Linked DNA regions of Homo sapiens. The protein of the gene in region 1 interacts with the protein of each later gene in a pairwise test. Each region holds a gene or a part of one and is shown in the gene's direction. Other genes may lie near its edges.

Region 1 (2,903 bases):
ATTTCAATGGGAAAAAAGGTCTCTTGATGTCCACCCATCCCTATCTCCATGTTGCAATGATAACTACTATTTCTTAGGTATATAATAATCTATTGAAATCCTTCTGGAAGTTTTCTATGTGTATGTAAGTATATATACTTTTACTGTAGCAGGAATTTCATATTAAATGACTCTGAGACTTAGTTTCTTTGCTTTACTTAACAATATAAATAATATAATATGGAAATATATTCAGTTATTTAAGAGTTACTTATTAGTGCCTTGAACACATATATCATAATTTATCTCATCTTTAATAATTTATAGTACTGTAAAGGCACCTTGAAAACCTATAAAGTTCTGTACATGTGTAAGTTAATATAGCATAATAAAGTGTGTTAGTTTTTCTTGAATGAAATATGGGCTAAGAAGTGGTAGAAACAAAGTTAGATTAGCTCAAAAGATGAATATTTTAACCTAGTAAATTTTTCTGTTAAGAGGAAATTTTAATAAGCCCAGGATACTCCTATATAATGTTTTCTGCTCTTTTGGTCCTTTCACCCAGGACTTTCTTTTATCTTTGATTTGACCCTCTGAAGAGACCTTTATTGAGGGAATGTCTTATTCTCAGAAAATAAATTTTAGGAAGAAGTATAGGTAGTATTTGTGATTTGATTGAAAAGAGGGCCAATTAAGATTAATAGGTAATAGATTATATTTATTAATTTAACCAGAATTTACTTTTGAATGTGCCAAATACTGTACTAAGTAATTACAGAGAAACAAGAAAATTTAATGAATATAACTTTTTGTTGTCTCAGTTGCATTTAGGTTCAGCTACAAGAACAGAAAAAGCAATTTATAATGATTTAATCAAATGTGGGTTTAGTTTTCTTATGTAACAAGAAAGTTCAAAGGTTGGCAGTTTGGGGCTAGTATGGTGGCTCCACCTTGTTCTCAGAAATTCAGGCCATCTCACTTTTTCCTCAGCCATATTTAATCTTCAGCTTTCTCTCTCATGCTTGGTGGGCTCTTAGTGATAGGATAGCTAGTTCATCTTCTTCATTACATGTACCTCTCAGTAATGGCAAAAGGCTAGAGGTGCTTGATAGGTGAGTCTTCCCACTCTCAAAAGTCCCTTTCAAAGGCTTTATTCAATTATATATATATAATTATATAAGGTTATATATATTGTGTATAATTAAATAATCTTGGAAGATATTTAGTTATCTCCTTAGATTCTTCTTGGTGGTGACAGTTTCTCAGACTTCCCTTGTTTTGTTTTGTTTTTATTTTTGTTTTTTCTCACCTCAATATCTATAACATTAATAATATATATATATATATATATATTCTAACTAGATACCCCCAGTTAGAATAAGGGCTAAGAAAGCTAGACACATCACACCCTATACAAAATCAGGCCTCTGGCTCAAATGGGAGAAAGAATGAATATTGAGTTGATAACTAGCAGTGGTTTAAACTTAGAGAAGTCAGAGGGAGAGTTGGGGAAAACTTCCAGGTTAAAGTATCATAGGAGCTGAGTCGTGAATGATGATAGACAACGTGAGAAAAATAAAGGTAGTCTGGGATGAAAGAATTGACAAGCAAAGGCACCGAGGCATGACAGTATTTTTACCTGGCAAAATATATCTGTGATATTTACTAGAATTTGATTTTTTTCTTTGCAGGGATATGAACGCTCATTTATTCACAAGATCAAACACAAACATATCCTGGCTAAGAACTATTTTTCTCAGGTTCCAGTGCTGGCTTCATTTATACTTGATGATGGTGAAATTGATGAGATCAGATGGAAGTATCACTCAGACACAACACCTAAGATTATAGAATCCCAGAGGCCTCCTCATTAGGTGATCCAGGAGTATTTGTTTGATGATCGGCATTTTGTTCACTGCTAATAGGGTAATACAGAGGTCACAGAGTATGGAAATGGAATTTAATCTGTTTATTGATTTTGTTTTTTGTTTTTCATAGTATTTTGAGTTATATAAAGAGAAAACATTTCTATATAAGTAAGTATTCTTTGTTAGGAAGTTGGTGCTAAATTGAAATGCAATTTTGTTACTGAAATTAATATTTTGGGGTAAAGAAAACATTTTAAAATGTGTTTTCACATTAAATTTTTTAAATTTTTTCAAGTATATTAGAGTTAAAATCTAACAAACAGCCAAATAAAAACTAGACAACTTTCAAGTTATTTATTTTAGATAGAATGTAGTTATAGGAAGCTAATCAGTATGTGGAGGGGAGGAAACATTATAAAGTGCTCTTTCTTGAAAACTTCTTTAAGTAGGATAAAAAAATTTATATTTTAGTATAGGCATTTGAATCTTTGCAGTTTATCGTCTGCTTTCACCTTCCATCCTTCTCATAATCCCAATAAAACAACACTTGAAACTATTTATAAATAAACAAAAAACCTTCATTCTGGGTAAACAATGGAGCTATTAGCATATGCAAGAAAAACTCCCTGTGGGCAATGGTGAAACTATAAGAAGAATAAACTGGTTAAATAAACCATAACAACGCCCTTCTCCAATAAACCAAAGGAGTGACCTTGACCACATATAAGTTAGGGACCTACAGTGATGAACAATGGTTTGCCAGTCAGTCTTAACAGGAAATGGATGGCACACTCGAAATAGCTTAAGCCAAGGAGAGTTTATTTACAAAGGGCCTTATTATAAGGTGTGGGTAGTGTGTAGGGAAACTAAAAGAATAGTGCAGGAACCCAGGGCTAGTATCAGACAGGCTATCTCTCCCTTTAGTCTCAAATGAACTTGGGGAGAAAGTCTGAGAACCCAGGAAGAGTGTAAAGAAGATAACTGAAAGGATCAATGACCAGCTGTAAAGGGAACGGCCAGGCATAGGGGAATCTCATGAACTAGAGAAATATACAA
Region 2 (3,929 bases), on another chromosome or scaffold:
CTCAGTAATGGTGCACCCTCACAGATTTTCCTTCTAGTTCAGTTCTAGTGATTACTGGATTACTGTTTTCCCCCAATACCATCTATTATTCTTTATACTGTCAAATAATTTTTAATCTTAAAATGACTAATTCTGAGTTCAGGCATATGGTGTCTGGCCACCTGCAAGAAGTTTAGGTGACTTTGCCAATAAGAATGATGGATTTGTAATTAATAAGTAATGTTGAAAGCAAAACTTGCATTACAATTCTGAAATTAGTCCAGCGGGGATACAGGCAAGAAATAAATTAACAGACAGATTAATACACAATGATATATTAGAAATTAAGTAAAGGTTCTTTTTGTATTTTCCCCAGCTTGTCTTATAGTATTCGCTTCTTCTGTTTGGATAACTTTCCCCAGGAGATTCATTTTAAAACTTAATTCACTTAAAATAACGTATTTTTTTTTATTTAAAAATACTGTCAGCCCTCCACATCCATAGGTTCCATATTCATGGATCCAACTAATCTTGAATAGAAAATATTCACAAAAGATTTGCACAAGTTTCTTCAAAGAAACTTTAAATTTTCCATGCATCACATTCTTTTTGAGTTCACATAAATGACGTGACGTCTGGGCATTGCATTAAGTATTGTAAGTAATCTAGAGATCATTTAAATTATATAAATTAATGTGATTATGTTATATTCAAATTCTACGCCGTTTTATACAAGGGACTTGAGTATATACAAATTGTGGCATATTTAAAGTTTCCTAGACCCAATCCTTTATGTTTACTAAGAAACGACGTACACATGAACTTTACAGAAAATAACTGTCCTACCAAATTAATGAACAGACTACAATAGAAAGTAAATATTGCTAGTTTAAAATACTGTTATTTTATGTCACAATTATATGGTGAATCAGAGTAGAGATCTTGAATTAATTTTGATTGAATTAGGCTAATTCTGACTGGGTCACACTCATATTGACTGAGTTTTGATAAAACCACTCCCATGCTGGCCCTTCATGTTGTTTAATCAGCACCACTAGCCAATCACATTCATCCATTTTGACAAATCCCATGGCTCCACCTCTTATAAGACCCTTGGAGGATTTCCCCAAGAGCTCACTCTACCAAAGCACCATTTGACCGGTCCCAGGCCAGGACACACTCTTCCATGCTCTGGCTGTGCTGTGCTAGAGGCTGATAATTTTTCTCCAGGTAGAGTAAAAGATCAAGGCACGAACTATATAGATTTACAGAAAATAGGCCAAAGATTGAGATTTTTTTGACACAAGCAAGTCCAGAGAACTTTTACCATGTATGGTTACCGGCGCTTAAGAAGCCCCAGAGATTCCCAGACAGAACCGCAGAATGACAATGAAGGAGAGACCAGGTATGTTGGAGTATGTGGCTACTTTGGGTTGCCAGGAGGTTGACATGTGACTGTGTGTGACTGTATGTGTGTGTGTGTGTGTGAATGTATGCTAAAGGGCCAAACTAGGGCAGAGAAGACACCCTGGCCTGCCATGACATTGAATGTTATAAATTTAGAACACATTGGGGAGACATGAGACCCACAGTGGAGGCCACAGGATGCAGCCAGCATGGGGGGTTTCTGCAGCCTGTCAGGGGGCTCATCTCATGTTTCTTCCCATTGTTAATCTCTGTCCTCTGGGTAAACAGAAGTTGCCTCTTGTGTGGAGACAGGTAAACTGTGGGCATGATCTAAATTTTTTCCTTGTGCTCACTAGAAAATGGAACATTTCATGTCATTTATCACTCCATTCACACTGTAACTGCATAGACACAGGGGTTAGATACCCGGAAAATCAGCATCTTCTCCTAAAGTCCTCGGGCCAAATTTGATGTCCCTCCTTCTCATGTGGATGAGCTCCTGAAAAAGCAAACTGTTTCCTGTGATCGCCATGTCTTATCACACACATGCACCGATAGGAAAAGCCTCTAGAAAAGGAGAGGGTGGGATATGAGTGTTAGGACTTTCTGGATGCAGGTAGGATTTGGAGCTGAACACAAGTGCATGTGATTTTGGGCCACAGCAGCAATGTGTGCCGGATGACTAATGAAGTTTGGGGCTTGTGAGAATTGGACTTTGTGTCACTATGTGGAAGATTGATGGGTCCCTTTCTGTCCTGCAGTTTGGCTACCACACAAATGAATCCACCCAAACGTCGCCAAGTGGAGCAGGGTCCCAGTACAGGTAAGGCACTTTCCCTAATATTTTTTAAGATTCCCATGCCTGGAAGTCAGTGTCATGTCTCATGATACCATAAATGGAGAGGGTGCTTTCTGCAGGGTGAGTGGAAAGTCGTGCTTGACTGTTGGGGGCTGGTGTCCTGAGGCTGGCCAGTGCTGGGTGGTGGATTTCTGAAGGTCACATTCTGAAATGCAAGAGACTCTTGCTGGAAGAGAGCCTTAACCTCCCTCACTGTGGTCTCTCTGCAGGTGCAAAAAAACCCTCAATTTCAGGAGCTCCACACCTGAATTCATACCAGTCCCTGGAACTTCCCCAGGTAAGTTCCTGTGTCCTTGCATAGCAAAGATTGGATAGTGCTGCACAATCTTCAGGTTCAAGGGACATCCAGTGGATGTATATTTAGGTGGATTGGCATGAGCACCAATTCTGGGAGGGAGTTTGTATTTTAAAGTTGTAAAGGGTGAAGCTCCTGGCATCTCCCTCCCCATGAGCATCATTTGCAGCCTTTTTGGAGGGCAGAATACTGAGGACTGTCTTTCCACAGAATCAGCAGGATTCTGGCACTGAGGAGCTCATGATAGTCCTGGAACAAGGGACAGAAGTGAGGTTGAGCCTGGAAGAGGTCATCCTCATCTTGGCCCCAGAGACAGTGCTGCAGCTGACCCTGGAGAACACAGTCCTTGTGATTGTCCCTGAGCATGTCCTGAGGTCAGAAGATGGCCTGCAGTCCCCTGTGCAGATCCAGTACATCATACCTTCCGTTGATGACTTCAGCTTGGAGTTCCATGCTCAAGATGGAGACATCTCAGACATGAGAAGAGAGAATGTGCCTTTTTCACCTGCAGAAGAAGGGAAGGCAGCACCCCTGTATCAGCAGCCCTTGATGATACCCCAAGCAAACCACATGGCTGGGATCAGCCCTTCTTTCCTAGTAACCCCATTGTGCATTCCACGCTGTCGGGCAGCCTTCCCCCAATGCTACCCTCTACCACCCACACCTAGTCCTGTGGGACGCCCTAGACCAGCCGACTCCAGTTTCAGCCTGCATGGTATGGAGCTCTTGTGCACCTCCTCCCTCAGACCTATGCCCCCTTCACCAAGTCCTGGTCCCCAGGTCTATCACAGGGTTCACCATAGGCCTCCCAGCAGGGCACGGAGATGTCTCTTTAGGAAGTGATTTAACCCAAGAGCCACCCCCTGCATTGATAGGTCAGAGATTGTCCAGATCCTTAGTCAGTGCATTCTCTGAAATGTGGAGAGAAAGTAATTTGACCACTTGCTTGCCCTTTGCTGTTCCCCATCATCAACCACTGTCTTCAACAGCGGAGGGTCCCAGATGCTGCAGGGAGGGGGAGAACTGCAGGGAGTTCAAATAAAACATTCACATTTCACTTCACACACACTGTCCCTTAGACTTTCTCTTCCTATTTAAGCACATACATCCAACCACACTCAATCAAATCCCTGACTGCTCCATGTGAGAGTTCTGCTTCCAGCATGACGTGGTCTGAAAGTTCATCTGAAGACAGCTGCTCACTCCCGGGGGCTAACACCGCCCCTTGCATGCTGATGTCCTTGTAGTCATTGGTCTGATGCCACAATAAATAATTCCTAAGGCTGATGCTCTATTTCTGCCCTGAGACTCTCCCCTTTTTCTCCAAGCTGTGCCCCATTCCTTGTCTTAGTCCAGGTTCCCTACACTCCCCAGGCCAATGCTTTTGAA
Region 3 (3,500 bases), on another chromosome or scaffold:
AAAAATAAAAAACAAAACAAACAAACAAAAAGGAAATGGGAAATTAGTTATTTGGCCTCACCTCCAGCTGATCTCCAGGTCAAATAGGATGAAATACTTCTAAGAAAACCATCATGGAAATACATAGAAGTTAAAGGGTACTTAGAGCATCATGCAGTGCAATCAGAAACTTATGGGGGTTAATCAGGAAAGTTGTTCTGCAAGAGGTGGGTTTAGAGCAAGATTTTTTTTTTTGAGATGGAATCTCATTCTGTCTCAGGCTGGAGTGCAGTGGCGCAATCTTGGCTCACTGCAGCTTCTGCCTCCCGGGTTCAAGCGGTTCTCCTGTCTCAACCTCCCGAGTAGCTGGGACTATAGGCATGCACCACCAGACCGGGCTAATTTTCTATTTTGAGTAGAGATGGGGTTTCATCATGTTTGCCAGGCTGGTCTGAAACTCCTGACCTCAGGTGATCCACTCTCCTCGGCCTCCCAAAGTGCTGGGATTATAAGCGTGAGCCACTGCGCACGGCCTAGAGCAAGATTTTAAAGAAGGGGTGGGACATTTATTACCAAACAAGAGAAGAGGGGCTTTCTAAATGGGGGAAGTGAGGTAGCAAGTGCTTTTGTAGGGTCTTTGCCCTGTTTGACTAGAATGATCAGGAACAATGGAGGGTAGTGCAAATGCTGAAGTTAACTGTTTTGTCCCGCTTGCACCTTATATGAAGCAGGCAGAGGGTTGGAAGGCCCAGGATTGCCTCCCCCCCACCCCCTCCAGCCTAGGTAATATTCAGAGCAGCCCTCTATGTGGGCTCTGGGGGAACTGGTGACCGATGGGAAAGCATGTGGCAAACGAAACTCCCTGTTCTCCTGCCACATATTGAGTTCTAGATTAATTCCCAGCTGCCCTAGTTGTTCTAGTGGGAACTGTCTGGCAGGCTCAGTATTTACAGAATGTGCTTCTTTTTGTGTATCTAATTATGTCTTCACTGCCAATCCCATTAACAAGAATCTCCTTCAGCAAGGAGTTGAAATATCTGATAGGACCTAAATTTTGGGCTGAAGTTTTCAAAGTGTGGGGTTATCAGGAGCTGGGGAAAAGGGCTCAGGCAGCTTCTCAGTGGTGGTCTTAAAGGCCAACTCAGAACTCATTTCTGTTTTCATCTCTCCCTTAAGAAATGGCATCTGCCTTTGAAATCCCCATAGACTACTAGCATGCTACATTTTTGGAATGAGGCCATAGCTGGACAGGGTCCACCTTTGTCAGCCAAACACTTAAGTCTCTCTTCGTGTAAGAAGTTAGAACAAAGCTGTTGGGGGATAACAGGTATGTTTTGTGACTGTGCTAGAAAAACAGTTATTTGGCTGGGCGCGGTGGCTCACGCCTGTAATCCCAGCACTTTGGGAGGCCGAGGCAGGGGGGTCACGAGGTCAGGAGTTCGAGACCAGCCTGGCCAGCATGGTGAAACCCCGTCTCTACTAAAAATACAAAAAATTAGCCAGGCATGGTGGTGTGCCCGTATAGTCCTAGCTGCTCGGGAGGCTGAGGCAGGAGATTTGCTTGAACCCGGCAGGCAAAGGTTGCAGTGAACGGAGATCACGCCATTACACTCCAGCCTAGGCGACACAGCAGGACTCTGTCTCAAAAAAAAAAAAAAAAAAAGAACAGTTATTTTTAAACCAAATGACTAAAGGCTTCCTTATTCCAGCCAGGTTAACTGAGTGATGTCCACCAGGGAAAACAAATCTGGCTGTAAGGACATGAGCCCCCTCCCAAGCCCTCCCTAAGCCATTTGTGAAGACATCACATACATTCTGGCTCCTTGGTCTGTGTTCATCTCCTTCCAAGCCAACTCAATCTTGGCGGTTACTAAGATAATAGAGTGAGAAGAGGGTTTAAACTGCAGCAGGAGAAATCTGAGTTAGACACAAGAAAAGGCTGTTGGAGCATTTGAAATCTTTGTGAAAGGTTATGTCTTTGGAAAAGGTAGTCATCTAAGGATTAAAATCACCTTTGTAAGATGGATTTGTAGAGACTTGGATAGTGGCTGCTCAGAAAATAAATGAACAAATAATTTACCTAGCTGTCTTCCATGTTGGTGTTGAGGCCTCTGCCAGGTAATGTTAGGGACACAGAGATGTAGGAGCTGTAGCTCCTGCTGTCCAGTCACTCATATTGTCATCAAGGGTTCCATCCGTCAGCAGGTGAGAAGTTGGATAACAGTCAGACAAAGCACTAGAAGCGATGTCACAAGGCAGTACACGATTAATTGCAAAATGAGTGGTGCAGATAATGAGCGCTTATGTGTTCAGAGCAGGGCGAGATCGCTGCAGACTGGTGTGATCAGAGAGGGCTTTATGGAGTGGCGAGGTGGTGAAGGATGGGTAGGATGCAAAGAGGCAGAGAGAGGGCACGCCATGCTGGGAACTTTAATAAAAGTCTTCTATGTTGGTGTGTGCTGAATCAGTTCTGCCTAAAGACATGGTGGATGAGGTGACCTTTTCCCACTTGCTTTGGCTCCAGGCTGAATTCTCTAAGCAATAAAGGAAAGAGGAATCAAAATAAAATTGAGAATGGGGGAATTTTTTGCCCGTGTGCCCATGAGTTGAGTTTTTTTTTTAAAATTTCATCTGTGAGGCTGGGGAATAAATAAATGATTCCAAAAATCTTTCATCACTGGGTTTCCAGTAGAAACTCCAAGTGGGCCTGAACAGTTGCAGCTGCCTACTGTACACCACTGTGATCATCAGCGCCAAACCTGGGGTAATGGTTCCTCTCCTGCTCCCACTCAGGCTCCCCACCCAGAGCTTCTTAAGGGCAATTGGAGACTTCTTCAATCCACTTTGGATCCTAAGAGTAGAACTCTGTGGGTTTTTACAGTGATTAGTTCTCTAATGCTGGCCCTGTTTCCATAGAGACCCTATAAATAGAGGAATGTTGGCGACCTAGGCTGGCAAAGGCTCAGGGTGACCCAGTCACCCCACTGAACCCTCACAGCCAAACTGTTGGTAGGGCGGAAGGAGTTTCAAACCCAGGTAGGAGGAAGGGCTATGCAGTCAGCTGCCAGGTGGGATAATTAGCTATAGATTAGTGTGACTTTAAGCTTTCCTGGGATTTGTTGAGAACACACGTACCTGTAAAAATTAGAAACCACTTTTGGTCATTTTTAACCAGATGGTGCCAATGACACTGTACCCCAAGGCATTTTAGTTTTGTATTCATGCAGCTGTGTTTGCAGATTTTGGAGCAAACTTCCCCTTTGGGGGACCCACACCCAGGGAGAAAGACGGATGAAGCCCAACTGTTCAGAAACCACAGCCTTCTCAGGAAGGATCTTTCAGAAGCCATCTAGTCCTCCCTTTTTTCCTGAAAGGACAGTGCCACCCAAGGAGATGGGGCTCTTCCTGCCCTTTCAGATAGTTCCAGGGGAGGGACAGCCAACTCCCCTCACTTCCTTCCCCGGGGCACCTCACCCTGGGAGGCTCTCCTTTCTGACTACCTTATGGCCAGTTCTGGGGAC
Region 4 (4,133 bases), on another chromosome or scaffold:
CTGAGCCTCCGTTAGCTCATCAGAAAATTGGGGGCGCCAATCTCTAGCACGGTTGTCATGAAGCGAAATCGAGGGGCTGCACGCGCAAAGTTTTTTCCCTTGCTGTGGCGGTGCCAGGGGCCTTGAGGCTCGCAGTGGTGGTGAAACCACAACCTATCAAAACCAAGCAGTTCGTTTTACAGTCGGGGGCAGTGAGGCCAGAAAGGGAAGAGACGGTCTCACCCCTCTCCCCGACCCCTGACCCCAAGGAGTGAACAGGTGACAGCGCGACTATCGGGCAAGGTCAGGGGGTCTCCAGAGTCCGCTCTCTGTACTTCGCCTGGCAGGAAATCCCCTCGCCTGGGCGCAGACGTGGGGCGTGAACGGTGCGGCCTCTAGACGGGAGCGCAGAGGGCAGCGCTCTAAAGCTTCTGAAGCCGGGCCCAGCCCAGGGCTTCTCCAGGGCTTGAGGGAGCACAGATTCCGCTACATCCCAGCCCAGCGCCCTTACAGCAGAGGGAAATAGTTAACAAGACGTGCAAGTGACCATGCACTGGACGACGAAGGCTTGTGTGTGTGTTAATCTCCCGTAGGAACGGGAATGGGGAGGAAGGTTGGAAACCTAGGAAAAGGTGCCAGCGGGAAGGCCCGCAGCGGCGCCCGCGAGCTCGCGCGCAGGAGTCCGTAGGACTCGCTTGCATCCGCAGGCCCGTGGTCCCCCTGGCTTCGAATGTCAAAACCTGTTAGGTTTATTTTGGGGGGCTTTTTTTTAACCTGTCATTAAAATTTGCATTTCCCTTTGCCCTAAGGCAAAGCTCCGACACCCCGCCAATTCTCAGCCTAGCCTCGGGAGCCCTGGGGATCCTGGCATCTCCCCAGCCCCGCCTAGAATCGGAAAAGCCCTCGGGCGCCTCCGGGTTGAATCCCCGCTAGCGAGTTAGTAGCATCTCCTTAAGAGTGGAGAGGAGGGGGCAGGGGCCAGTGGAAGGAGAGAGGAGGAGGGGACGAGAGAGGGGGAAAGGAAGAAGCAAGGCAGGGAAAAAAATTTACTTATTTTTTTTTTCCGCTGCAAAACCTTAAGAGGGTTTGGGAGATCTGGTCAACTTTCCGAAACATCTGAATCTTTTTACTGCCCTCCGTTCTTTCCCTCGGCTAGCTGTGGGGAGGGAGGAAAGAGAGAGAGGGAGAGAGAGAGGAAGGGGGGGGGAGGGAGGGGAAGAGAGAGAGAGGAGGGAGAGAGAGGAGAGAGACAGAGAAAGAAGAGGGGGAGAGAGAGAGAGGCCGGCGTGGAGGGGAGGAGGGAGAGCGAGCAGGCCGGGCAAGGAGTGCACAGCCACAGCCTCCTCGCCTCCCCAAACTCCCAGCCAAGGCGCGCGGTGGCGTCCTCGCGCCCTCGCTCGCGTCCCCGCCCGCCGCCTGCGCAAGCCAGGCATGAATGCTGAGACTTGCGTCTCTTACTGCGAGTCGCCGGCCGCTGCCATGGACGCCTACTACAGCCCGGTGTCGCAGAGTCGGGAGGGCTCGTCGCCTTTTAGGGCATTTCCCGGAGGCGACAAGTTCGGCACAACTTTCCTGTCGGCCGCCGCCAAAGCACAGGGATTCGGGGACGCCAAGAGCCGGGCCCGTTACGGCGCTGGGCAGCAGGACCTGGCGACACCCCTGGAGAGTGGAGCTGGGGCGCGGGGCTCCTTTAACAAGTTCCAGCCCCAGCCGTCGACCCCGCAGCCCCAGCCGCCGCCGCAGCCGCAGCCGCAGCAGCAGCAGCCGCAGCCCCAGCCGCCCGCGCAACCGCATCTTTACTTGCAGCGAGGCGCCTGCAAGACGCCCCCGGACGGCAGCCTCAAACTCCAGGAAGGCAGCAGCGGCCACAGCGCGGCCTTGCAGGTTCCCTGCTACGGTGAGTGCACGTGCGGGTCACCTGGTGCTGGGGACCACGGGGTGCTTGGCTTCCGCATCCCTTGAAACTGGTGGCTTGCGGGAGGTATGAGTTGGCGGGCTGGGGGCGGGGTGGTGACTCTGGTCGGTAAACGGGATCGATCGCTGCGAGGGAGCCAAGGGATCTGTTCTGTCTCCTTCTTGTCCGCCGGCCTAGGCACGGAGCGTTTCGGCTGTTAAACTCGACTTGGAGTTTGTTTTTCCCGGTCCCTTCGGCATTTCCCCAAACCGCTCGCTTTGCGCTGCCCGCTGGGCGGGATTTGAAGCGGATGCTTCTTACCGGCCCAGGGCGTGCGGCGGCAAGGAGTCTCCGCGCAGCGCTCTGGCGCTGGGCTGCGGGGCTGCGGGGCTGCGGGGCTGCGGGGCTGCGGGGCTGCGAGGCTGCGGGGCTGCGGGGCTGCGGGACAGCAGGACTGCAGAAGCCTCGCTCCTCGCCGGCTGGGAGGCTCCTCGGGCGGCGCCGCCGCAGGTGAGAGCGCCGCAGGTGCGGAGCCAGGCGGGAAGCCCGGAGCGTGGTTGGCCGAAAGCTCACGGGAAATCCAGGCGCACTGGCGCAACACAGTGCGGAGCCAGAGACCCTAGGGTCCCAGGGGACACTGTGGTCTGGCAAGACCCGAGTCCTGGGACCCTGAGCGCTACTGGCAGTGGGGATGCGGGCAGGCCAGTTCCCCTGGAGCTTCTCCCTCGGCGATTCTTGGAGGCGGCAGGCCTCTGAACAATGGTTTAGGACAGAGTAGGAAGGGAGACAGGAAGTCCCGAGTCCCAGGTGGCCCAGAGCTGTGGCAAGAGAGAAGGGTCTGGGTCCTGATTTGAGCCCACGGGGAACCCGGGGGAGCTGGCCTAAATGACCTCCAAGCTGCCTTGAACGCAGCCACAGGAGGCAGGCCTGGGCCCCCCAGAGCACAGCCACCATTGCCCGGGAGAGAGAGACACTCAAGGACGTCTCTAGCCAGAGCAGCTCAGTAGCCTAGGCCTTCTCTTCTTCCAGAGAATCGGGGTTCCTGAACCCCAAAGCGGAAGGGGAAGCAAAGACGCAGAAAGGGAAAAACCTTCTCTGGGCCAGGAGTCCTGAGCACATACCCGGAGGCCTTGGCCTTCAGGTCCGGCCCTGGTGGGAAGAGTTGGGGGCAGGGAATTTGCCCTGATCCAGGCTGATGGAGAGGCACTAGGCCTGGGGACAGAGGCTGGGACACGGCGGAGGCCTTGGTGGCTAGAATAACTTTGGGAAAACAGCCGATGGCAGATATTTTCTCGTATTCAGGTTCCTTCTTTCACAGGCGCAGAACTAGTTCATAGATGGCTGCTGACAAACATTCACAGTCATATGCTTGTCTACAATTGCACTCTACACACACACACGCAGAGAGCATCTTCTTTAGGAGCCGATGTGGTCATACCCCAAGAACACATGCCCATGTGGCCTCGAATGAGCCACATACTCCCAAACCCATAGGACAGAACTGAGAGAAGATTTAGAAAGATTCAGTGGCCCTTCCCCACTTCCTCCACCTTCCTCTTCACCTCCAGTTGGAATGAGATCAGGCATTCAGATCACAGACCCCCAAGGCTCCACACACAGACACCCACAGCTCCACATGCAGGCACACACAGTTCCACACACAGACACCCACTGCTCCACACACAGACACCCACAGCTCCACACACGGACACCCACAGCTCCACACACGGACACACACAGCTCCACACATGGACACACACAGCTCCACACACAGACACACACAGCTCCGCACATGGACACACACAGCTCTCATACAGGCACTCTTTCCGTGCTAAGCCAGCAGAGACTCTCAGCCCTGTCCGTACTGGCTGTCCTTCCCAGCCCAGGGATGCAGGCCCCAGCTCGTCCCTGTCATTCAGGACTATTAGGTGAGGGCAGGTCGCAGACTAGGGGACCCATGGAGGTTCATCCTGCATAGCCAGAGAGCTCATGCTCTCTCTCCACTGCATTGAATTTTCATATTTTAATGAAAATTACCAGTGAGACCTCTGAAGAGGCTGATACATTAGGCAAGAAGAGAGCCTAAGGAGCTCCCCACCTCTTGGTTAAATGCCTTCAGGTCCAGAGGGAAGGCGGAGAGGCCTGGCCTCCCCTGAGCCCTCTCTCTGTGTCCTGCTGGGCCCCCACAGCCAGCCTGGCCCTTCCTCTACTTGCACTAGCCTTTGGAGCTGACGGAAAGGGCCAGCCACTTGACCCGCTA

Evidence for each region. Proteins that work in one complex are often made in the same cells at the same time.
Region 2: the proteins of IQUB (region 1) and PRR23D1 interact in a two-hybrid assay, tested with the Homo sapiens proteins (one large-scale study listed by BioGRID).
Region 3: the proteins of IQUB (region 1) and TMCC2 interact in a two-hybrid assay, tested with the Homo sapiens proteins (2 studies listed by BioGRID and IntAct).
Region 4: the proteins of IQUB (region 1) and ALX4 interact in binary tests that used the Homo sapiens proteins (3 or more experiments, as listed by UniProt).

The regions. Positions count from the first base shown.
Region 1 is NC_000007.14:123,451,693-123,454,595, reverse strand, and holds the end of IQUB (IQ motif and ubiquitin-like domain-containing protein), read left to right. Parts: exon of another isoform or gene 1-1,664; intron 1,665-1,670; coding exon 1,671-1,853; 3' UTR 1,854-2,403; downstream 2,404-2,903. UniProt on the Homo sapiens protein: Adapter protein that anchors the radial spoke 1 (RS1) complex to the A microtubule of outer doublet microtubules in axonemes. The triple radial spokes (RS1, RS2 and RS3) are required to modulate beating of the sperm flagellum.
Region 2 is NC_000008.11:7,538,498-7,542,426, forward strand, and holds the start of PRR23D1 (proline-rich protein 23D1), read left to right. Parts: upstream 1-1,129; 5' UTR 1,130-1,307; coding exon 1,308-1,384; intron 1,385-2,147; coding exon 2,148-2,209; intron 2,210-2,454; coding exon 2,455-2,522; intron 2,523-2,750; coding exon 2,751-3,383; 3' UTR 3,384-3,929.
Region 3 is NC_000001.11:205,234,446-205,237,945, forward strand, and holds part of TMCC2 (transmembrane and coiled-coil domains protein 2), read left to right. Parts: intron 1-2,059; exon of another isoform or gene 2,060-2,513; intron 2,514-2,738; exon of another isoform or gene 2,739-2,846; intron 2,847-3,500.
Region 4 is NC_000011.10:44,307,340-44,311,472, reverse strand, and holds the start of ALX4 (homeobox protein aristaless-like 4), read left to right. Parts: upstream 1-1,333; 5' UTR 1,334-1,410; coding exon 1,411-1,876; intron 1,877-4,133. UniProt on the Homo sapiens protein: Transcription factor involved in skull and limb development. Plays an essential role in craniofacial development, skin and hair follicle development.